Linked DNA regions of Homo sapiens: region 2 is linked to region 1. The links come from fine-mapping of genetic effects on gene expression. Tissue or cell type: fibroblasts. Region 1 holds a variant in brackets; the other region holds the start of a gene. All regions are shown on one strand. Distances are from middle to middle.

Evidence for each region.
Region 2: it holds the start of LRP1B, and the variant in region 1 is fine-mapped to the expression of LRP1B in fibroblasts (GTEx, PIP above 0.99).

The regions. Positions count from the first base shown.
Region 1 is chr2:141,495,729-141,507,649 of GRCh38, reverse strand. The region is part of intron 2 of LRP1B (LDL receptor related protein 1B); the gene reads left to right. Among named protein-coding and RNA genes, the nearest start is that of LRP1B, 630 kb to the left of the region's middle. The variant G/A (reference allele first, on the strand shown) is at 6,493.
Region 2 is chr2:142,125,624-142,137,544 of GRCh38, reverse strand. It overlaps LRP1B (LDL receptor related protein 1B), which reads left to right and starts at 6,529. Exons shown (of 91, transcript NM_018557.3): 1 at 6,529-6,897. The coding sequence starts at 6,816. RefSeq lists an enhancer at 5,462-6,661.

The DNA of each region.
Region 1 (11,921 bases):
GTACCATATTTCTAATGCACTTTAATGTATGCCATGATGAATCTGGCCCATAATTTTGGAATGCTAAATATGTACTCTCCTGAAGAGAATTCACTGAAAGCTTTACTGCGTGACTGCATAGAAAAGCAAAAATCTAGCATTTAGTTTTAATGGAAAGGAATTTATATTAGATATCCTTTCCTCACACAGATATGAATAATTTTGCTTGAATAATTTTGTAATTGGAAAATATCTATATCATTTTTTAAAACTATTGGCTGCAAAGTTATTACACTGAATTCATTTTAATCATTTAGCATACATTAATTTTTGGTTTAATAATAAAATCTTTGTGCTAAACAAGTAATGACAACAACAAAAATCTGGGTTAGTCATTTTTGTATATCTTTCCCATAGTAAGCTGTATTTATATTTCTGTAATGTATGTTTAAAATTTAAAGGTCTTCAGAGTCCTATCTTATTTTCAAAATTCATTGTTAAACATTTTAGGCAAGATGCTGCAAAATTTCTGCATGAATAAATTATTTTACTTACTGTATTTTTCAAAAGTAATAATCTGATCTCAACAGCAATAACCCTTCCGATGAACATACAACCATTTGAGATGAATCAAACACCTTCTGTAGAAGTCACTTTAGTTAGCTAGCATTTAATAAGCATCACCTTTGTATAGTCCATGTCATTAGAATTGGCAAAAGAGGAAAAGGAAGGAGGAATTGATCTCAAGGAACATAGAATCATCATTTACACATAATATATTCCAAAGGCAATTAGAACTATGTTTCAATTTTTAAAGCATACTATACTTAAAAATTTATAATATTTTTTTCCCAAGGGCACTTTTTAATAACATAAAAAACACAAGAAATATTTAGACTTTAAAGGATATTTTGAGAAGTAAATTTTTTTTTTCTGTTGTATATAGCCGTCCAAAAGTGCAATTTGTATAGTGTATAACATATCTATATTATAACATACTAATACAAAGAGCCCGAAAGAGTAGACTACTTTATAAAAATTGTCTGGCTAGATTGAAGCTAGGTGCCCACATCCTATACAGCCTGTCATTAACTCTTCCCGTAATGTAACAGTGGAGTGATAAATAATGCTAGTAGACACTTTCATGTGAAGATTAACAGTCATTAAAGATGTAAATACAGTAGAATGTTACACTAGTGCACGTATAAGCCACTCTAATTGCATAGGTAATTAACACTTCTGTTGTTTTTCTCATTATCATTTTGTTCCAGTTGAAATGCTTGTTAGCAACCTACTCTGTAGAAGGAACAGATAGCATGTCATTATAACAGTTGACACAAGGCAGCCTTCAAGTATGTGACACTAATTAAATTAAAACTTCAAATTACAAACAGACTTCTTATAACTAATGATGAATGACCATTTTCACGAAACAATATTCACTTCTTTATTCAAGAGTCACAAGTGTTGCTTTTAATATGTTGTATTAAATCACAAAGAAATCCATTAACAAAGCTGTTATGTCTGTCTTTCCAATGGAAAGAATGTTAACATTTTGAGGCTTTTCTGCAGACTAAGGGAGTTTTCTCCTCTCGTTTGTCTAATGACAAATGATTAGGAATTTCTATCCCTAACAGGGTTGTCACACTTCTCAACAGCTGGGTTACGAGGCAGTCTTTCCCGGACAGGGAAATGTTCTAGAAGTCTGGAAATTACTATTCTCTTTTAACTAATGACAGTGGTTGGTGCATAAAGAATGGTCAATAAATTGTATCAGTATATTCTGAAGCTGATAAGATGTCCAGAAAAGGCTTCTTGAGACTATACCACTTTGACATAGTTAGAACATTCAGATAATTTACAAGAGTTAATTAGGAATCAACCCTAAAGCAATCTTAATGGAGATTGGCCTACCAAGCAGAATGTGTTACTAAGTCTCAGAAAACAAATACAAACTATATTATTTGCTTCATCTGATTAGAATATTTTGTCCATTTCAAAAGCTTACTTTATAACTAGGTAACTAAAAGACAATTAAAATTTTAGTTAGTGAGGACAAAATTATAGTAACAGGTATATGTTGAATAATTTTAACAGTCTCTTATAAAGAGAAGAGGTCTATTGCAATATTTTTCAATTCATAGATTTCAGTCCACAGCTTCATTGTGAAAATTTCACAGGTACAGTATCAACTTTGGCCCATATGTGTAATATAGTTTTCTTGCATATTATAACAAGTGAGTATACATACTGTTACAGCAATGGATGCCAGAAGTATGTGTGTGTTGAACAGGACTTAAAATGTGCTATTTACTCTGAGAAAGACGAGGCCCTAGAGGCCTGGTATGATATCCGAGTTGCAACAAAAGATTTGCTGAGACTTACAAATATTTGCCTCTGAATATATGAAGAAATGGTTACAGGGAGCAGGAGATCAAAGAATATGTGATAACCATTGGAGCTTTTATAGACTCTGAGAAGTGCTGTTATACTGTATCAGTATAATAGAAATGACTTTACCTAAATTATTGAGGGGAGGGGAAGAGAGAGAGGGGGAGAGAGAGAGATAGAGAGAGAGAGGAGGGATTTATTCTTCTCAAACAAAGCAATAATAAATGTATTATTCAAAATTGTGATACTAATACAAGTAAGTTTAAACCTTTGATCTAATGTAACACTGTCCAGTAAAACTTTCTGTGAGGATGGAAATGTCCTATCTTTCAAATATGTTAGCCATTAGGCACATTCAACTATTGATCACTAGAAATGTGGCTAGTGAGACTGAAGAACTAAGTCTTTAATTTTATTTCACTCATTTGAATTTCACTTACTTAATTTTAATTTACACTCATTTGAATTAATTAAAATCTAATGCAATTAATATGAATTTTAATTTAGCCATATGTGACTAGCAGCTACCAAATCTAGCCCTTACACAGGTTTAAGACATCCACCTCCATTGTAAGAACTCAATCCCTTGAGTTCCAGAGTGTTCTTGATCCTTTGGTGATTACAACCTGGACAGATTATTGCTCCTTGGGCACCCACATTGTAGATTTCTTGCTATCTTCCATCTGGTAATGTGTTGTTTCTGCAGACAAGTTACAGTTAGCTTATTTACTGACTTAAACTTATTATAGGTTTGTTCCTTGGTTGGAATTCCCATTTTCAAACTATCACTTAGTATGAGTTATTTCTGAACATAAATGATTTCATCAATTAGCATATGGGCATTTTTTTAAGTGGAGTCATTTCTCTCATCCTCTGCTTTCCTGGGATCTATCTACAAGCCGAAGTTGTAAATCAATTACATAGTAAATAAGGCCTTACTGAATTAATTTGTGAATATTTAATGATTACTTAATATTTTTCATCCCTATACTAGCCACTAGTAATCCAAAATTATTAAGACATCATCCTGCCCTTGGAGAACTTACAGTCTTTAAGTGCCACAGCACTATAAATAAGCCAATTCATCTTCGAAAGCAGGCTTAATTAATATGAAACCTCTGGAGAATTCATCTACAAAAAATACGAGTGTGTCAGCAAGCAGAAATTATTTATCACACAATATCCCTCCTTTGGACATGTGAGTAACCACAACCATTATTAATGTATTAGATAGTATTTGGAGGTGGCAGAAATCCAATAGCCTAAATCGTTTCCAAGGTAGCTTTCGGAGTTAGCCTTGTAAAATAATTAAAATTCTAATTTATTCCTGTGTACACATGGAGTAAAATACTTAGTGTTAAGATCTGCCTGAATGCTTAAATATATTAAGGAGTGCTCTGTTGTGTTTATTAGTTGTTTCTCTTTTCAAAGTTTTCAACATGGCAAAGTTTGCCTTAATTATATTTAAACAAGAGTGCCTTAACATATTCTCTCTCTCACCCCTTACAATCTTTTGACATACCTAGTTCTCCAGTTTTGTGTATTAGTATGAAGAAGAAAAGTGAATTAAAAGATGTATTCATATTATGATGTTAATGAGTTCCAGGATGTGATATTTTAGAAGAAGCATGAGTAGGAATTGGGAGAGAGGGAGGGTTTTTCTGGCACACTGCAAATTATACAGATAGAAGGAGGACATAATTATGAATACAGCCAGTATTTTACTTGCATTACTTCTACATTCTATGTACAGGTAGAATGGTCATACATAACTGCAGTATTATTATTTTGGCTACGTATAATGTAACAGATTTTAATTTAGACTTGGCAATTGATATTTGACTCTCAGATTTCTTATTCTTATATCACCAACGGTTGGAAACTGTTGGAAATAAGTGGAATATCAGAAGTAGTTAGGGAAAACTTTATCAACTGGGTCCAGGTTTCCTGGAAATATATATATTTCCTCTACTCTAATATATATATAAAAATAATTGTATATTATGGTATTATATATTATTATATATTATATTATATATTGTATTGTATATTGTATATCTTATATATAGTCATAATAAAGTAAATTCATGTTTACTTTATTATATTATTCATGTATTACTCATATATAATTATATATTATTTTTTATATAGTCCTAATAAAGTAAACTCATATTTTCTTTGAGATAAAAGTGACAATTGAAATTCTTCTATTTATATGTATCTAATAATTTGGATTCAAGCAAATCATTGGTGTGGTCAGTCCATTTTTACATTACAACCTTTAATGTGCAAAATAGCCTTAGAGATTTAAAAATTGATTTAAAACTTAACTTGAATATAATTACAACCTTCATGACTTTAAAACTTATATATCCTAGCTGTCTTATTTTTAATTTTTATTTTTATTTATTTTTTATTTTTTGAGACGGGGTCTCCCTCTGCCACCAGGCTGCAGTACAGTGGCACAATCTTGGCTCACTACAACCTCCGCCTCCCGGGTTCAACCAATTCTCCTGCCTCAGCCTCCTGAGTAGCTGGGACTACAGGAACGTGGCACCATGCCCAGCTAATTTTTGTGTTTTTAGTAGAGACGGGGTTTCACCATGTTGGCCAGGATGGTCTCGATCTCTTCACCTCGTGATCCGCCCACCTCAGCCTCCCAAAGTGCTGGGATTACAGGCATGAGCCACTGCGCCCAGCCAGCTGTCCTAGTTTTTAAACAATGATACTGAAACAGTTTCCCATAGGCTAAATTTTTTTCTTGAGTGTTTCTTCAACTATCTATCTATTCCCATGAGATCGTAACCTTTTATTTTAAATCAAGTAATTTTGTTAGGTCTCAAGTATGCTGGAATCTTTTGATTAAAAAAATGAAGGTTAAATACAAATATTCATGAGCAAACAAATTCCTCAACCTTAATGGATTTCACCATTTAGTTCAAGGTGACCAGGATATTAGATTATCAGCCTTGTTATATCAAATATAGCTAAACTATTTGTCTTCCCCTTGGGGAAAATCCTAAAAATATTCTCTTGTCCCCACATTTCATTACTTCAGAAGGATATTGATTCTTACAGAATATTTGAATGAAAAATCCTGAAACTGTTGTTTCATTTCATAAAGTTAATGAGTATTTCGAAATGGACTCCCCAGCTAGGCAGTTGCACTACTAGACAAGATTTAAACACAACTCAATCTTATATTTGTTTGGGGGGAGTGTTCAGATATTTAAAAGTATTTCCCATCTGTTGTTACATTTTATGCTCACAGCTGGGTTAGACTTTGAGGTTAGATCATGAGGTTAGGCTGGTGCCTCCCTCCACAGTGCCTTCTTTTCAACATTTGACAGACAGGAAAAAAAAAAGCCATAGTTGTTTCAGTCACTTTCTCAGTCATACTGTTAGAGAATGCCAGACTCAAGCCTGAGCATCTGACATCAGTTCTATAGCAATTTCTCTTAATCTACCAACCAAATAATATGCTGTAGCTACAGCCAAATTTTTCCAAAAATTGTAACTTTCTATGTCAATCTCTACAATGCATGTTTCTTTTAGATCTTTGCTACAACTACATCATGAATACATCCCATATGGTTGTTAATTACAGTATATAGCTTCATTTGTATAGAGCAGCTTACCACTGATCTCAAGGCTAACTTTGCAGAAAACCAAGTTATCACCACTGCAACTTCAACAACAATAACAAAATGTTGTAACTTCCCTCCTCTAATTATTTTGTAATTAACTTCAAAGTCTAAAATGACTTAATTATACTGTAGTATAAGCCAGAATCAGTGACAACTTCTTGATTGGACACTGGAAGCTATTTACAGGCTGCTGTATTTTCTTTTCATGTAGTATACTATGATTTCTCCTTTTAGGCACTTGGAATTCATAAAAAGAAGATGTTTTTGAACTTTAATTCTCCAGAATCTCATATTATGGGACTCATGGAGCCATTTTATGATACTTATGTTCTTGAGGTATACCACATACACCTATTTTCTAGCTTGAATTTATTAGTGTATTATAATTCAAAATAAAGTATACATAAAATAAAATTTGTGAAATTTACATAATTCATCAAAGTCAAAGAAGATGAAAGTTTCTTAAGTGAGAAAG[G/A]AATACTTCTCTATAAATAAAGGCACAAAGTGAATTATCATTATTGTTCAACTTTGCAAGAAGTCCTATTATATTTAGAAGATTTTTCAAGATATATATGTTTTTGTTGTTTGAAAATGATGGTCTGCTTTAGAGTGAATGATTAAATTGTTTTACATAAGTATATCATCTAAAAGAAATGGGAAAAATGACCAAGAGAAGGGCAAACAATGAAAAAAATCAAAGGATACATGAAGAAAATAGAAGTACTCAGAATCCTGTTGTCAGAAATAACTGTGGCAATGATCTTGTTTATTTCTAAAGCAATAGAGGAGTTGCCTCTAGATCATCCCAAAGGATCAGACACCCTTTGCTAGAATTTATCTGTAAACAGTAAATTCATGAGACTATGTCCTTGTTATATACACCTAGTTCTCAGCAAGTGTTATCTATATGGATGAAAAAACTGCTTTCTTTTGAAATCCAAGAGGAACCACTGACCGAATCCCTCTTTCATTGTGAAACTTTCATATACTTTAATTTGCCATAATATTCCTTCTATAGTTTATCTTCCTGAGACAAATATTTCTGAATTTTTAAATCATTGACTTACCATATAATTCCCAGACTCCATCCATTTTATTTCCCTTTTATAGAATGAGAAACCTTTGTTGATTTTTTAAACATATGGTACCTAGTACTATGTAGGTAAGAAAAACCTGTTCTGCGCTCTTTAGCTTAGTAACCGGGGCCTGCAAATTAAAGTGACAAAACACAGATCAACAGGAGAAAGGTTTATTTTCGTATGCACACAGGAGCTTCACAGAAAAGAAGTGAAAGTCCAAAGTAGTGGCTAGGTTTGAGAGCTTACATATCATTTTAACAAAGGCTGATAAATTGTGGAGATGTGACAAGACAAAGCAAAGGGATTTGGGCTTACAGGGATGGTAAATTGTGGGAAGGTAAATATATGGGGAAAGCTAATGGAAGACAAGGGTTATTTTACTAACATTTGTTATTCAGACTCAAATAGGCTCCCTCTCCAGTGATGCACTGTCTTCAGTAAGACATCCCCCTCTTCCTAATACAGGAGAAAAGAGCAGAAACACCTTCACAAAGAAAAATGTATGCTCTGCTTTTAGGCAGAAAAAGGGAAGGAAGATAGTTCCTCCCATATCTGCTGTTCCTTAATTGCCTTTAGCTCAAAGTAATCCTTATGTCAAAGTGGCATCTTTGGGGGTAGAATATTCTGATCCCCTTCAACTCTAAATGTGTTCTAAAAAAAAGAAGTAACTTCATTTTCCTTGGTAATAAACAAATTCAAGATTTGATATACAAATTTGCATCTATTAAGGAAACCTGATGCCGAATACTAACACAAATCCTATATATTTTATTTTTTTATTTCAAATTAAAACTTTACATTATTCTTTGTTAATTTTCTTTTTTATTTGCCAATCATGTCAGCTTAAAAATGTCATACTTTAATATTCCATATATTAACTATGTTTTCAATCTTCATTCACTTGGAAATTTTTAAAATGTGACATCTGAGTCTTCATTTAAATAACTGATGATTATGACATGTTGCACAGAACCCAGTCCTGTCTCTCTCTATAGGAACATAAAGAACCTTCCAAAGAGGATGTGGAAAGAGTTAAAACAAACAAACAAACTAAAACTCAAAGCAAAACAAATATATCCAAGCAGGATTTGAGAGATCATACACAGGATACAAAGCGAAAAGAACCAGACAGGGCCAATGTGAACAAGTAAGAGGCGTAGGTATTACCGGAAGGAAGCGATGTTACTCTGTCATATAGTTACATGGGCAGTGGATCGTTGTGAATAACTGTGTGGACCCTGAAGATAAAAATCCTAAGTTTAGATTCTGACTTCCCAAAATAACCGCTGTGACATTGCACAAGACAGTTATCTCTGGGTCTCTATTTCTGCACCTGTAAAATGAAAATAACAAGTGTGACTCTTAAGATTGGTCAGAAGACTGAGTTAGTTAATAAGCCTAAAAAAGCTTAGAACACAGCCTGATATATGGGCATTATTAAATACATGTTAACCACATTATTAACAAGGGAAGGCCTTTCTTCTGAATTTAACAATGAATTCTCTTCTGTAGTTTCTCAGATCAGAGTAGAGACATTAATTCATGAGAGAAGACATTGCTGAAAATGAAATCTATTTATGTACTGACCACCTTATTCTGAGGAAATGATACCCTGGATGGAACAGATTGGGTGTCGTTATTTGCCTATCTAAGCAAGGATGACTTTGTAGAAGCCCTCACTGAATTTTAGAGATATTCACAACAGAAACACATACAATAGATTTCCTACTCAAAGATAGAAAGCATGCAGAGAATGTCTGTGGCAGAGATTCACCACACAAATATGGAAGTGTGCAGAGGTAGTTTCTTTCCATCATAGTTTCCCTGGAATGACTGAAAAGATATGAGCCATTATGCAGTTGTTCCAAATGCTAGCCAAGAAGCAGCTCCTTTGCAGGATGGGGGCTGGGGGAGTGGGGATGATTTAGATACTTTTTTAAGGGACTGGATTTCTGGTAAAAATGTATTTTTCCAGCAGTTTTACTGATGCCATAATAGATCGTGAACATTATAAAAGGGTACCATTGCGAAAAGTTATTTTACCAGGTAGGAAACTTGCAAGAGGATTTATATTTCAAAATGACAGTGTCCTAAAACTCACATTTAAAAAAAATGTCTTGAAGAGAACAGGTCCAGAATTGTAGCCTATGGAACTATATTGCTCAGAACCTTAGCCAAAAAAGAAAAAAAAAAAAAAGGATTTTAAAGATGTTGTCTGGGACTTTTACTCCTCAGTAGAACTTTGTACATAGTACAAGGTGTTAGAGTGTTGTAGATGAAGGAGTTCATTTCAGACCACCAAAGTCTTCCTGTTTTTTGTTTGTTTGGTTTTGTTTAAAAATGTGTATTACTCCACTAGTCCTTTTCAGCAACTAAACAATTTCATGCCTATATTTTATTAGGGTCATAAATTAGTTTTCTATACTTTATAGTATCTTAGCATCAAATACTAATGTTATATAGGTACATTTGCTCCTGAGATACTCAAGTTTTTAATGTTATAAAACCAAAAATTTCAAGTATTTAGAGATGTACTTTTGAAAAGTCACAATATTTAGATACTAACGTTAAGTTTTAGTGGTTCTGCATTTTTTTCGTATGACTGTGTTAGGTTATTTTTACTTTTAGAAACATGTCTTAAAAGATTCAAAATTAATTTATATCCTAAATATAATTTTTTTATTCTCTTATTTTCATAAAAGTTAAAAGTCAGGTTAAATGTCTTTATGATAAAATAAATGTAATTTTTCATTGCCCATTTAAAAAACTCTGCATTTATCAACTTTTTCTTCAGGATTTTGTAATTTATCATCATAGTTTGTTCAGTAGATTTGCGCTAAAGTTCAGGCCTAGTGGACACCTATTCAACTCTTTAAGCATTTTTATAGCTTTTCAATCGTAGGGAAAATTAAAGAGAAGTTTGGCCAAACAGCAAACATCCTGCAGTGCTTATTTGCTTATTTTTCTATCATCGCCTGATTTCTTTATCCTGGACCTTCCTTCCTGTTCTCACTTCACACAAATGTGGTGTAGGAGAAAAAACCCGGTACTTCCTTATTCAGTTATTCTAGGTTATTTTATAGCTGTAAACTAGGACGCCAAGTTGCTACCAGAGGTGTTTTTTGTTTGTTTTCAAGTAGACCCAGATTAGGATCTCTGTTAACAACATAATTAAAAATTGAAGAAAGCATGGTTAGTACATGCAGTGGTAGAGGTGTGAGTAATTGCAGGTAGCAGAGGAGAGAAAATAGTTGCCTCTAAAAAAAGTATTTTGAAATGTCCTTCATGCCAGTTTCCCAGATACATAAACTCTCCACCTCACTTTTCCAGAAGTAAATTTTGAGAAAATAAGGAAACAAATGAAAGTAAGAAGAAAAATAAATTGGGGGATGTCTGTGTGTGCATTTATATATTTCTACTTCTAATATATTTATAATATATGAGAAATTGCAAATAAAGTGGAAGTTGGTCTTCTGCCTTTGTTTTTCTTATGTCACAAGTTCTGACTCATAGCTACTGAGGCTGCTGATCCTTGATGTATGATAATGTGCAGTAAATTGAGAAGTGACTGATAAAATTTGAACCGAGCTGTCAGATATGACATCATATGATCAGATCATTTGTACTTTCATGCTATCAATTCTGTTTCTAAAAACAAACCACAGAAAACAGACTTTTTTCATAATTTCTCGCATTTTATATCTGGTTCTTCTTCTTTTTTCATAATTTCTCACATTTTATATCTGGTTCTTCTTTTCTATTCTTTTCTTCTTCATAACCCATGACATTTTTCTTATTTCTTCTTTGATGATACAAGCAAATTCCTATGTAGTGTTTAGAAGATTTTTACCTGACTATGAATGCATATGCTCTTCCAAAGACAGACTCATTCATAAGAATCTGTGACAGGTCAGCATTTCCAGGATGTGCCAATATATTAATATTCATAAAAAGATGAAAACTAAGTGTGCATGTTCTTCTGTAAGCGACATCGTGTTTAATTCGTGGTTGAATGAAATGAGATGCTCTGTTTAGGAGCTCGATTTCAATGAACGTATTTCCAGAAAATGGGCACTGAGTTTTAAGTCTACTTTTAGGAGGCATTAGAACGTTACACTTTAATTAAAGAGTAGTCTGTGTAGAAGCAGCACCGACATTGCCTGGGAACCTCTAGAAATGCAGAATTTTAATTCCAACAAATATCTACTGAATCATAATCGGCACTTTAAGACCTCTAGGTGATTCAGATGTACATTAAAGTTTGGCATTTTTTTTTTAGAGTGCATAGTATGGCTCTGAATGTGGCATTTACCAAATGTTTATTATGACACATACATACAAATTCAGGAGAGACATAATCCATGAAAATCAGATCAGAGTAGCAAAATGGTGAAATTGTTTAATAATATCAAGGAAGACGAAACCCTTGATGAACTCCAGCATAAAATATCAAAATATCGACATTATTCTAGAATAATTTTAAGCTGTCATATTTGAAGAAGCTTTGAGGTGTATCTTAGTTGTAATAAAATAATATAACAGTGTTTCCATGATAGTTTTACATATAAATAAGCATCCTTAAAGAAATTCCCTGGATTACTCTTTCTGTGTTAAATACTGTGCTATTCTACCATTGCTGTCATTAATCAACTTCATTAGATAATATCATAATGAGAACATAGGTGAAGCTACAAGAAAAATGTTGCAGAGAAGAATTTGTATATTTTCTAGAAGTGACAGATATATATGTGTATATTTATATATTTGTTGCTTATAGGAGAGCATTATTTTTTATTTTACCAAATTATTGTTCGTGTATGTGTGT
Region 2 (11,921 bases), 630 kb before region 1:
TTTTGACACTTTAACAGTCATTCATTTTATTAACATACATATTATGTGTAAGTCATAGGGTTCTGGCATCTCATCTTCTCAGCTCCCTGTCCATGGCCCATGCCCAACCTCTATCTTTGTCGGTGTAGTATCCTGATTACTTCAGATATAAAGATGTATTCCATGGCAGAAGGACCAGGGAACAGCCGAGATAAGAGATATTAAATAAGTTCAAGGGAAGAAGTGGAAAGCCATTAATCAACAGTAAGGCAAATTGCCGTTGAGTGCCTATTATAGGAGAAAGTATTATATAGAAAGAACATTTTTGGGGGGTTGAAAATTATAAAATGCTAAAGGCTACATAAAAAGTAAATATAAGAAAAAATATGAATTGGATATGAAGTTGGAAATTATTATTTAAAGGGGATAAGATGCTTGAAAGGGTCACAAATAGGTCTTCATTAATAGCTACAATAAAAACAAATAAAAGAATGAGTTGAATGACTTTTATAATTCTCTTTTTGTCCTGATTTTATGTGACCCCACAACAGAATAGAGTCCGTAGAATCTAATGAACATGTAGGCATGTATCACTGTTGATATTTCTGAAAGTTCTTAACATTTCTGTACTTGCTACCAAGTTCTAGATCAAAGTATGTTGTGATTTAAATATATTTTGTGATTTCTTATTCACTGTTGAATTCAAATAGAAATTGGGTTTTCTCTATGACTAGAAGACACTTTCCAAGAAAGATGCAGCATTGATTTTACTGGGTGATCCCATTAGTGGCCTTTATGTGTCATGCTTGTGGTTTCTGAGAGGATGGTTTACATGCTGATACTGGAAAGTCAGTCCTTTAGCAGAAGAATGATATTAATATTTTATTTAGATTATATGCTATGTTCCTGCAAGAATTATGTTTATTATCCTTATTGCTATATGCATGGTGCTAAATACAGTGTCTGTCACATAATATATAGATATTTAGTGAATGAATAAATTCATATTCTCTGAGCTACCACTTCTGGGAAGTAAAACAAACAACAACAGCAACAACAACAACAAAAACTAAAAGAATACCAACAAAGCTGACTACATAATACGGGAAGCATTCAAGAAGCTTTATTCAAGGTGTATTTCTGATATTAATAAAATGTGTGACTTCAGACTAGTCACGTTTTCTTTCTCTAAAAATTTTTCATTTGCAAAATACGGTAAATTGGAGTAGATTATTTGAATGCTCCTCCCAGCTCCAACAATCTTAAAGTCTCTAATTATAATTAAGGAGCAGCAAGATGATGACCAGAAAGAAGGTCAGAGATCAATATTCATAGGTAGAAACATGTCACAAGGGCATATTCAGACAAAGTGCATCCTGACCATGTCCACTGACAATCAACCCTCCACCTGATACACTAATTCTATTCTGGGTCTGGAGAAGGCAATGTGGAGCTCGTATTGAACACACATATGTCAGGGTCTAAAAGTACCAAAGCAACATACCTTATAATCAGCAACTGACTTAAAACCCGAGGGCTAATTCCATGTGAGTGGAGTGACAAGGATTTGATGAATTGTTGACATTTTTGTATTACCTACACACGGATGGCAATATTACCAATTGTACCTTCTCTTGACATATCCAAAGAGCAAAATAGGATTTATATCTTCAGACTATATTATTATTATGGATGTCAATCCCTTAAAAAATGAAAAAAATGATATAACCTTTAGTCTTTCAAGTCTTCTGCTGGCTTTGTCTAAATCTGTAGACTCCTTTTATTTTTACTGTCAAAAGTTTATCAAACAAGAGTCAGAAAAAATCCAAATAATCAAATCAGTATTTAAAGCTTATATTGTCTTCTGAAACTTATAATTGCCCTCAGTCATGCTTTTTGCCATAATATTTATGTCTTAAAACATTTACAGATAGTAACAGTAAAGAGAAGCTGAAAATATAAAAAGAGAAGACCAATGTAATTGTCTTGGAAATATTTTTGCTTTCCAGATGTAATTAGATAATTGCATCACTCTTAATTTTCTTTTCAATTGTGCATACCTCCTAATAATTGCTTAATAGTAAAAATTAAAGTTACACCAAAATCTTATTTATCTCAACCAAATCTTTGTATCCTAATTGAGACAGTATGCTGAAAAACAGAACCCACTTTTGAAGAAAAGCGGTTAAAAATGTGCCTTGATCTGTTGCAGTTTGAGAAATAACTTGCATCTAAAGTTTTTTATTTTTCTTAGAGGCTTTGTCCAGAGTAACTCTGTTTCAAGTTAAAGAACTGATGATGTTTCCTTAATAATCCTTTCTCTCTCTCTCTCTACCTCCTCCGCCCCCTGTCTCTCTCAGTCTCTTCCCTTTCTTTTTCATCTTGTGTCTGCTGCTGCCTGGCAACTTTTCTGTCTGGAAAAAGGCAGGGTAAGAAACTTAGCAGGCCTTGCAATGATAGCTGCAGAAATCCTTAGCAACCTAACTTTCAGGCCAACTCTCCTTCACACACATCTCTTCCATGAGACAGACTGTCAGCTCCAGCTTGTTTAGACACACGTCCTCTCCCTAACTTAACGATGTTCAGATGTGTAGCACAAATTGTTACTATCTACAGTAAGAAATCCAATCTCACAAAAATAATTAAGTTAGCAGAAATGAAATGTGATGTTTGATCACATGTATGGAAACTGTGGCTCTAATTGGGAAGTGTAAGATTACCACTGACTGATAATTAGCATTCATGTGTTGTTTTAAAACAAAAAGGAAGAATGATTGGTTCTACTTTGTTTAATTTATCTTAATGAGAGATTTCATAATATTCTATAGTTTGATGAATTAATTTAACTTGTCAGTGTTAATAACTCTGATTAGAATGAATAAATTATAATGGAGCCTAGTAACAAACAAAATTCGAACGCTCACTCAAGCTTTTCCCTCTTCACTAATAGTGCACTTTATTAATTTATTTTTTCATTAAAGCATATATTATGGGGAAACAAAAGTATTTCATAGAAAATTATACTTAAGCTTTTCATTTATTTATGATCCATTAACATTCAATGGTCATTTAAAACCTAGGAGCAAATTATTTAATTTTAAAGCTCAAATTTGGTCTACACTTTTATCAACCTCACTGATGCTCATAGAAACCAATCTTCTTTTATAAACTGGTCATTTTCAAAGAATATCTGGAAGAAGAACCACTTTATATAAGAGATTTGATGTGGGACAGACAATTTTATCCCATTTCATTTTGACACCGGCTTTATTTCAGTTTTGGAGCAAATATATATTTTCTGCTTAATATTTAATCTGTTTATTTCATATTTTGGCTTCTTGGTATGAATCAGTGTCCTTAGTATAAATTTTAGTCTTAAAAACTCTTAACAAGCATTTAAGTTCATGTGTTGTTGTCCACTTAAGTACTGGTGCATACCTAAGCACCTATACTTTCACCAAATTTTTGAGAGAGGTTTTATACCATTTAGATCTTTATTAATCATGGTCTTAAAATAAAGCTTCAATTTTTTTTTTTTTTTTTTTTTTTGAGATGGAGTCTCACTTTGTCCCCTAAGCTGGAGTGCAGTGGCGCGATCTCGGCTCACTGCAACCTCCGCCTCCCAGGTTCAAGCGATTCTCCTGCCTCAGCCTCCTGAGTAGCTGGGACTACCAGTGCATGCCACTACACCCGGCTAATATTTGTATTTTTAGTAGAGACGGGGCTTCGCCATGTTGGCCAGGATTGGTCTCAATCTCCTGACCTCGTGATCCTCCCACCTCATCTTCCCAAAGTGCTAGGATTACAGGTGTGAGCCACTGTGTCCAGCCTAAAGCTGCAAATTTTATTTTATAGATAATACTTCATTAAGATTAATTCACAGTGGAAATTAGGCTTATCATGTTACCTTTTATTGGTGCTCCAGCCTATACTTTAGTAACTAATCTTCCATATTTACTATCACTATTTTATAGTAACTGTTTTGAGTCCTATGTCATTCATGATTACTGACTTAATTGGTGATTACTTAAGAATTCTATTTTGCTTTATTATTCTGGTCACAATGTGCAGACAATGCATTTTTGATTTTTTTCCACTCAATGAAATAAAAAAGTCAACCAGATGATCTAAAAAGATCATATGGTTTTTACTCTGGCTAATTCATTTAACAGGCTATTAGGAGGCTCTACGTATTTGGAATGTTGTATATTTAGAATACAAAATCTCCTGAGTATTTGCTACTCTTATGATCTTTCCTAGCTTTTCCCTTTTCCAAGCTGACCATGGAATCTAGGGCTGCTGCACGTACTACAGAAGTGAATGAGTTAGTGATTTTTAATCATAGCATTGGGGCACTTTAGTATGTGGTAAAAGTCTTTGGTGGGTCATACTGTTCCTGGCTGCTTTCCTTTACTTTGCAGTGAAGTGGAGGGCGATTGGTGGTAATCTTTCAGAAGAGGAAGAATCTGGATGTCCTTAGTATGGTTTGTAAGCACTCCTCATTTTCTTGCCAAGAGTTAAGTGGATACAGATCTCCTAATAGCTGACCTTCTAGTTGACTGAATGGGATCATGTAAGAAAGACACCTGCTACGTTGTCCCAGTGAATAAGTTTGTCATACAATACAGAGGTCTGTGGACCCTCGAGAAAGAAACATTTATTACTTGGCACATCATTCAAATCTCTCTCTGTCTCTCTCTCTCTCTCTCTCACACACACACACACACGCGCGCACACACACATATTCTTTAAACTCTGCCACTCATTTCAAAGTTTGTGAATTTTCAGTATGAAGTAAAATATGTAAAAAAATCTTTTTATTCTATATTGTACACTATATTATGAAATAATAAAAACATCTAGGAAAAATTAGACATGTAACAACTTTAGAAGAAAAGAAGCATACACTTCTCTACTAAAAGTACAAAAAAATTAGCCGGGCATGGTCGTGGGCGCCTGTAGTCCTAGCTACTCCGGAGGCTGAGGCAGGAGAATGGCGTGAACCCGGGAGGTGGAGCTTGCAGTGGGCCGAGATCGCGCCACTGCAATCCAGCCTGGGCAACAGAGAGAGACTCCGTCTCAAAAAAAAAAAAAAAAATTAAGCATACACTTTTGAATGTAGGAGTCATATTTCAAACACAAAATGGTTGTATTTTCAAGGGAAAGTAAACTTTATAATTTAAAACATGGAAAAAGTGACATAAAATACATTTATAATCACAGAGTAAGAATAAAAAGGTGAAATCCACAGATTATTGACAATGTTCTGCAAAGTCATCTCTGTGTTCTTTCATCTAGTCCAGTTTTTAATGGCTTCAAAGGAGCATCTAAAGATATTTCTGGATAATTTTACTCTCATAAATAGGTAGATAGTAATGCTGGCATTCACTTATAAGTCTCAAACAGCAAAGTAAATAAAGCTTTTAAAGCATCTTCCTTCACTTTTCAATCGTTCTCTTCCTTAGTTCTGTTCCCTTCTCATAGTTTTCCTCTCCACTCATGTCCAGTTTCAAAATATTAAATATAAAACCTTTTCAACTCTTGTTCTTAGAAGAGAATTCCTGATGTTACAAGGAAGAAAGTAAGTCTACAACTATTAAGATTTCTGAGTTTTAATTCCGTAGCCACTTTGTAATGGCAAACTAAAATTTTAGGGACTGGGATGATCATGTTGTAAACTTAAGTGGTCATAAAAACAACTTTACTAATATTATTATTCCAGTGATTCCCGTTGATGCCTCCGATGGCTCGGGAAAGTTCTTACACCGCCCCTGTAGTATATGGAAAAGGAAAACAAAACAAAACACAAAACAAAAACAACAAAACCCTCAAAGCCTGTTTAAAATGGCTCGAAGTACCCTTTTAAAGACAGAACCCCAGAGAAAAACGCTGCCAATTCGTTGCTTTATTGTTCCCTGCCTGGGGACCTCAATAGCCTTTTCCATTAACCTTCCCTTCTTACGCAACGGTTAATGACTTTGGGGGTTGTTTTGCTTTCTGTTTCTGCTGAGTCACTAAATTTTGCCTCTTTGTCCCCAGGTGCTGCTCAGCATAAAAGTTAAAAGTGCAATTCAGGAAGTACTGGGATTCTGTGTAGAGCCGAGGAAACCATTTCCCTAAGAGAAGCTCTGTTCCTTGGCTTGTCCTTCCTTCCCGGGAAGGAAGCTTCCGAGGAACGAAGGGAGAAGCTTTGTTTTGCCTGCAGAAGCAGCCCTGTGCTCGGCTGAGGGTTCTCAGCTGGCTGTGAACTGCGGAGCATTGTAGGCGCCTGGCTGGCTCAGGCCAATGCAGAAGTCTCTCCCTTCTCCAAAGACCCAAATCCCCACAGAACCAGCTTCGAGTTACTTTCCCTTCAAGGGGATTAAAATAATTGTGATTTGTGGCGCTCTCCGTTCGCGGTGGTATTTTCCTGTTGTGTTAAATGCCTCTTATTAAGTAATAGATGTGATTTATGTGAACGACGAAGGGGTGTGTGGTGGATTCGGTGATTAATCAGTGAATTCCCATCCGCTGGCATCTCTCACTGCCCCTCTTGCGTGATGTAAGATCAGACGTACCCTGCATTGAAAAGTCAAGACACACGGGCGTCTCGCTCGCGCTCACACACGCTCTGCCTCCTCTCTCCCGCACGCGCGCATCCCTCCACCTTCCACATCCTGCTCCAGGCAGGAGAAGGCTGACTGGCTGGACTCATTGAGCTGAAGAATTTCCAGTGACATTTGTAAATGACGCCGCTCGATTCCAGGCTCCAAGCGGCCCCTGCCGCCGCCGCCGCCGCCGGGCCGAAGGTGCCGCCGAGCAGTCTCCAGCGCAGGCTTCCTTACCGGGCGACCACAATGTCCGAGTTTCTCCTCGCCTTACTCACTCTCTCGGGATTATTGCCGATTGCCAGGGTGCTGACCGTGGGAGCCGACCGAGGTAAGGAGAACACCTCCCCGCTCCCCTCCCCTGACTTCCTTGGCTTTCCTGCTGGGCGATGCTTGCAGATAAGTGAGTGTGAAACTTAAGTCCTTGCAGCTCCGCTCCCCGGGACCGGGTGACCACCGTGCGCTGGCCCTGTGCGGGGGTGAGAGGTGCGGTGCGGGATTTCTGAACCAAGTGCCTGAGTCCTCGGCACCCCCACAGCTTTTCCCTTTGGCCGTTTCCCGGTCCCCATTTTGTCCCCTCCGGGAGTGTGTGCACTTGGCTGTGCGCTTCTGTCCGCGAATTCTAAGCGCTGCAGATGTTGGAATGAGAATTCGCATTTCCGAAAGACTTCCCTCCGCGATGGCCCTCAACTGCGAGCTTTTGCGAGCTCCAGGTTCTCCGCGTTAAGCGTGTCCGCCCTCAACTTAGCTCCCAGGTTAACTTCCTTACCTGCTGCATTCGAGGTCCGTGGAGCGGCGAAAGCGCCGATTCAGGCCCCTTTCGTTTCTATAGCCCCTTCCTGGGGGCAGACTGGGGTCAGAGTCCTGTCATCAGCAGAGAGGCTTTTAGGACGATTCCGGGCGCACGCACCTGCTTGAAATTGACTTTTCGATTATGAGGGTCTGTGACACAGCCCAGGTGCTCTGAGGGGCTAACCCACCCCTGGAGTGCCTCTCTCCAGTCTGGCGCTTTGCTTTTCCTTTTTCTCCAAGCAGCTGGTGAATGGTAGAAGTTTAGAAGGGAATGGATATGGGGAGCAGAGGAGAAAGGAGGTAGGAATTAGAAAAAGCCGGGATTCTATAAACTTTTCATCTGGAAAATCAAGAATCCCTGTGCGAGTTTAATAATCTTTGACAACAGATGCACTGGTGAAAAAGGGAGGAAAATACTAGATGAATATTTGGGGCACTGGCCCTGGCCTTGGAATGGTTAACTGGTTAAAGTAAAATCAGAAGTATCATAGATTTTTTTAAAATCAGAAAATGAGCTTATATTGACTGGTATAGTTCAGCTTTTTAGTTTAAATAAGAGAGAGAGAGAGAGAGAGAGAGAGAGAGAGAGAGAGAGAGAGAGAAAGAGAGAAAGAAACCCAGATCCCAATGCCAAGCAAATAGGCAGAATGTTGCATTGGGAGATTTAGTTATTGTATTTACATGAAGCAGATTATGAATTGACAAAAAATATTGCTTCATTATAGGAAAGAACAGGGGAATGAACTGCAGTGTTTCTATTCAACCTGCTGTTGGCAGCCAGATTCTAGCCTTTGTAACATACCTACACGTGTTATTTCCTCTACCAGTGGTGGGACTAATCTGAGTTCCTTTAGGAAATCTGACACTTATTGGTGATAATCTTTTAAGCATATCATTGCCACCTAACCATAGCTTCTGAACTTGCTCAACTTGCCTTGAAGTTGGTGTGGAATGGTTGGAAACTATACTGATGAAATGGAAGCACATAGCTCGCCTTGAAATGATGATGTCTTTGATCTGGAACAATCAGCTCTCAACCTTTCTTAGGAAAAATGTTTGAAGTTGGACCAGAGCAGATGAACAGAATGGAGATTTTCAGCCCAGTATGCTAGCAAAATATAATGGTACTGGCAGACTACTGCTATTGGGCTCTTCCTGATTGAGTCTCCAATCTCCAGAAATTTGACTTCATCTAAAGCTGAGTTCTCAATGCTTTTGTATACATTTATGAGGATAGAACTACTGCTACCATGATTGGAGTAAATATCTGAAGAGAATTTTGTATAGAACATAAAAAATACAGACCCCACAACTTTCTTCTGAGATAGAATATTAAATAACTAAGAGGATTATATTTGGTGCCAATTTAGTTTCATGAGGGAGAGGAACATCTAAGATAGAAGCAGAGCACATGGTAAACGATTGCTAGTTTTTTTCTAAAAAATGAAATAGTGTCGTGTTGTATCACCACGTCCACATGAAGTACTATATCAGATAGCACAAGTAAAAATAATTGTAGACCAGCACTTTGCCACTATTATATATTTAACACACTTTCAAAACTGTTAGCAAAGAGCTAAAATTCTCACAGTTACCAAAAGTGAAAAGGATGGGCCCCATTTGGAAAAAGGAATTTTAAAGAGAGAAATCTTGTTGAAAGTTAAGAAAGAAAGTGTTACTGCATTATGACAAGCTTCCCTCACTAATATGCTGAAACAGAAGATATGGGAATATAAACTCAAGAAAGAGGTTAATGAGATGTAACTTTCTGCACAGGCTTATGTCAATCGTCCTTGAATAACAGAACAGGCATGTGAATTATACAGATGCGTTTTGTAGTGCAAGAGCTAACTGCTTGACAAAAAATGAGAATTCACATTTAGGTTCTACGTGTACTTATTGTGTAATAGGTAGCTTCTCAAACTGTATGAACTATATCAGAAGTGTTTGTATTACCTTCTAGCTGTGTTTTTCCTTTATACATTCATAAGTTCAAACATTGTATTAAATAGAACAAGGCTTGAAACTAACTCGTATGTTTATGTTCAAACCATATACGTGCACTTGTCTTTTAATTCCTTATTGTTTATTTTATTAGTTTATATTGATTCTATATAGAGCTAAACTAATGTACATGTAAGTTTTTATTACATTCTATCACATCTTAAAAAGGAAACATCTTTGTAACTCTTAACAGCCAAAATTGGAAGATAAATCAGATTCACTTAGAATCAACTAATTTGTCATATAACAATGTCATATCATATCAAAGTATTGCTTGATAAGGATTAAAACTTAAAAGGAAGTATATCTTAAAGTGTCAAATTTTCTGAAAAGGGATTGAGAGGCCTAATGCTAGTCTGTGTTAAATTCTCGAGTATGATACAATGTGGAGACACATTTCCAAATAATTAAAGTTCATGCTGTTATAGTCATTTTAATGTATCTGTATAGAAAACCATCAAACAATGGCAATTAAATGTATATCAAAATTTTAATCTCCCCTCAAAGAAGAATGAACTGCGATTTATGTCTCTTCATATGCCACAAATAACATTAAAGTTTTGTTTTGAAGAGGTTGCTAATCTTTGAATTTGTTCTCTTTCTCTCTTCTCAAGCTCAAATTTAAACTGAGTGAGAGAGAAAAGAGAAAATGGAAAAGGTAAAGAAAGAATTTAAATGTGCTAAAACAATAAGAAAGAATGTGAATTGCAGAAAACAGAATTCAGGAGGAAAAATGGAGTTAAGAGAAAGCTGAAGATAAATTTAGGAAAAAGATGAATGGATGGATGGATGGATGGATGGATGGATGGATGGATTCTGCCATACATCAGAATCTGAATCAGTATTTCTTGAATAGGTTAAAATATCTTTAGACAAAATAATTTCTTAAAATGTTTTTATCTCATTATTAAAAACATTATATGAAAATATTTACAGTATAAAAATAATTTAAGGAAAGTGCCACCAGTGTGAATCTGAATATAATTAGACCTCTAAGAATGGAGAGAGACATGAGAATATTGCAGAAAAATTAAATATTAACTGTGCTAGAATTACAAATATGGAAGTGATTTTTTAAAAATGTAAGTGAAGGTAAAGGAAATTTTCTTAGAAAGGGTGCTAGATGAGTGATATGGTTAATGTATTCTTAGGACTTAGATGACACTTTCTAAATGCTGCTTGTTTTTCAAGGTGGAGGTATGCAGAAATACTTAGTTTGCAAATCTATTGGATCCAGGACATTAGTTTCTTGCCAGTTACCTTGTCAATTTCTTTTCTCAGCCCAGGGGATACCATAAAAATCAGCTCCATTTAAAGTCACCTGAACTGAACAGGACTTGGTCTTCTACAAGGATTATGATGTTGAGGGAACTTTATGTCTTTTCTCCATTCTATATATGGATCCAGTTTTTTATGTTTCTGCCATTAATTTTTGTATCTTAATGTGAAATGTGCAACTCTCCCTCCCTTTCCTTCAGCATTTTCCTGGTTATAGGAATTCTGTGTAGTAAAAAGTACCAATCAAACATACTGATAGATTTCTCTATCTTCTGTGGCTGTCTGTCAAAACAATTCTTGTACAAAGGAAACACTTGTCTTCATTCTAGATAGATGCATTCAAAGAAAGTAGAATTAATCCTAAAAGTTAAACATGCCTGTGCCAACATGATATCATTCGTCAAACTAAGTTAGTAGTAAGTGGAACCCAACTATACAATTGCCCCCAACCCCGTTTTTAATCTCTCTCTGTGTGTGTTTATGTGTGTCTGTATATCTGCTTTAAAATGGCTTTCCTTGGCACAAACGCCATTAAAAATACCACTCTGGCTTGAAAATTGGTGATGGTTTTTATGAATGAAACTTTTGCTTTTGAAAACTCCAGATAAACATGTCTATTTATCTGGACAAAAAAAAAAGTGAAATGAAAAAAATTTTAAGTTATTTTTTGACTCATAGCATATAATATTCTAATACATTTCGATATAACAAGTATTTTGTTTTAACAGAATCTGACTGTGTGGCAGAAACACGTGTCAAAATTATCTGCTTTTGAAATGAATATAATTATGGTATACCCAATGCTTATAATTTGAAGCAATACATTTAGTAGCAGAATGCTAAAGAAAATAAAGCCAAAGACTGAGTTCCATTATGAATTAATCAGAATATATGCTCAGCCAAACTCCTATGAGAAAATATCTATGTCTACCTTAGATAGTTTTAAAACTTTTCTTAAATTTCTTCAAGAAACCTGGCTTCCCCCATATAATCCAAGAATAATGACCAAAACTATCTTGATGCATAGAAAGGTCAAATAAGAAGGTTTTTCTTTTGGTTTTGGCAGAGGAGGGGGGAGAGTAGGGAAAATTAGCTAATCAAACAGAAAAATGTCAAGGGATGCTTTTTATTTTCTTCTGTGGAGTTGCTATACATTTTCACATGGATAGCTATTCCCAAATTTAACCTGTGTCACAAACCATTGTCTAGAGACATAGAAATGAAATTGCAACAGAGCAATCACAAATTGTATAGTCTATAGGCCTTGGGAACATTCTCCAG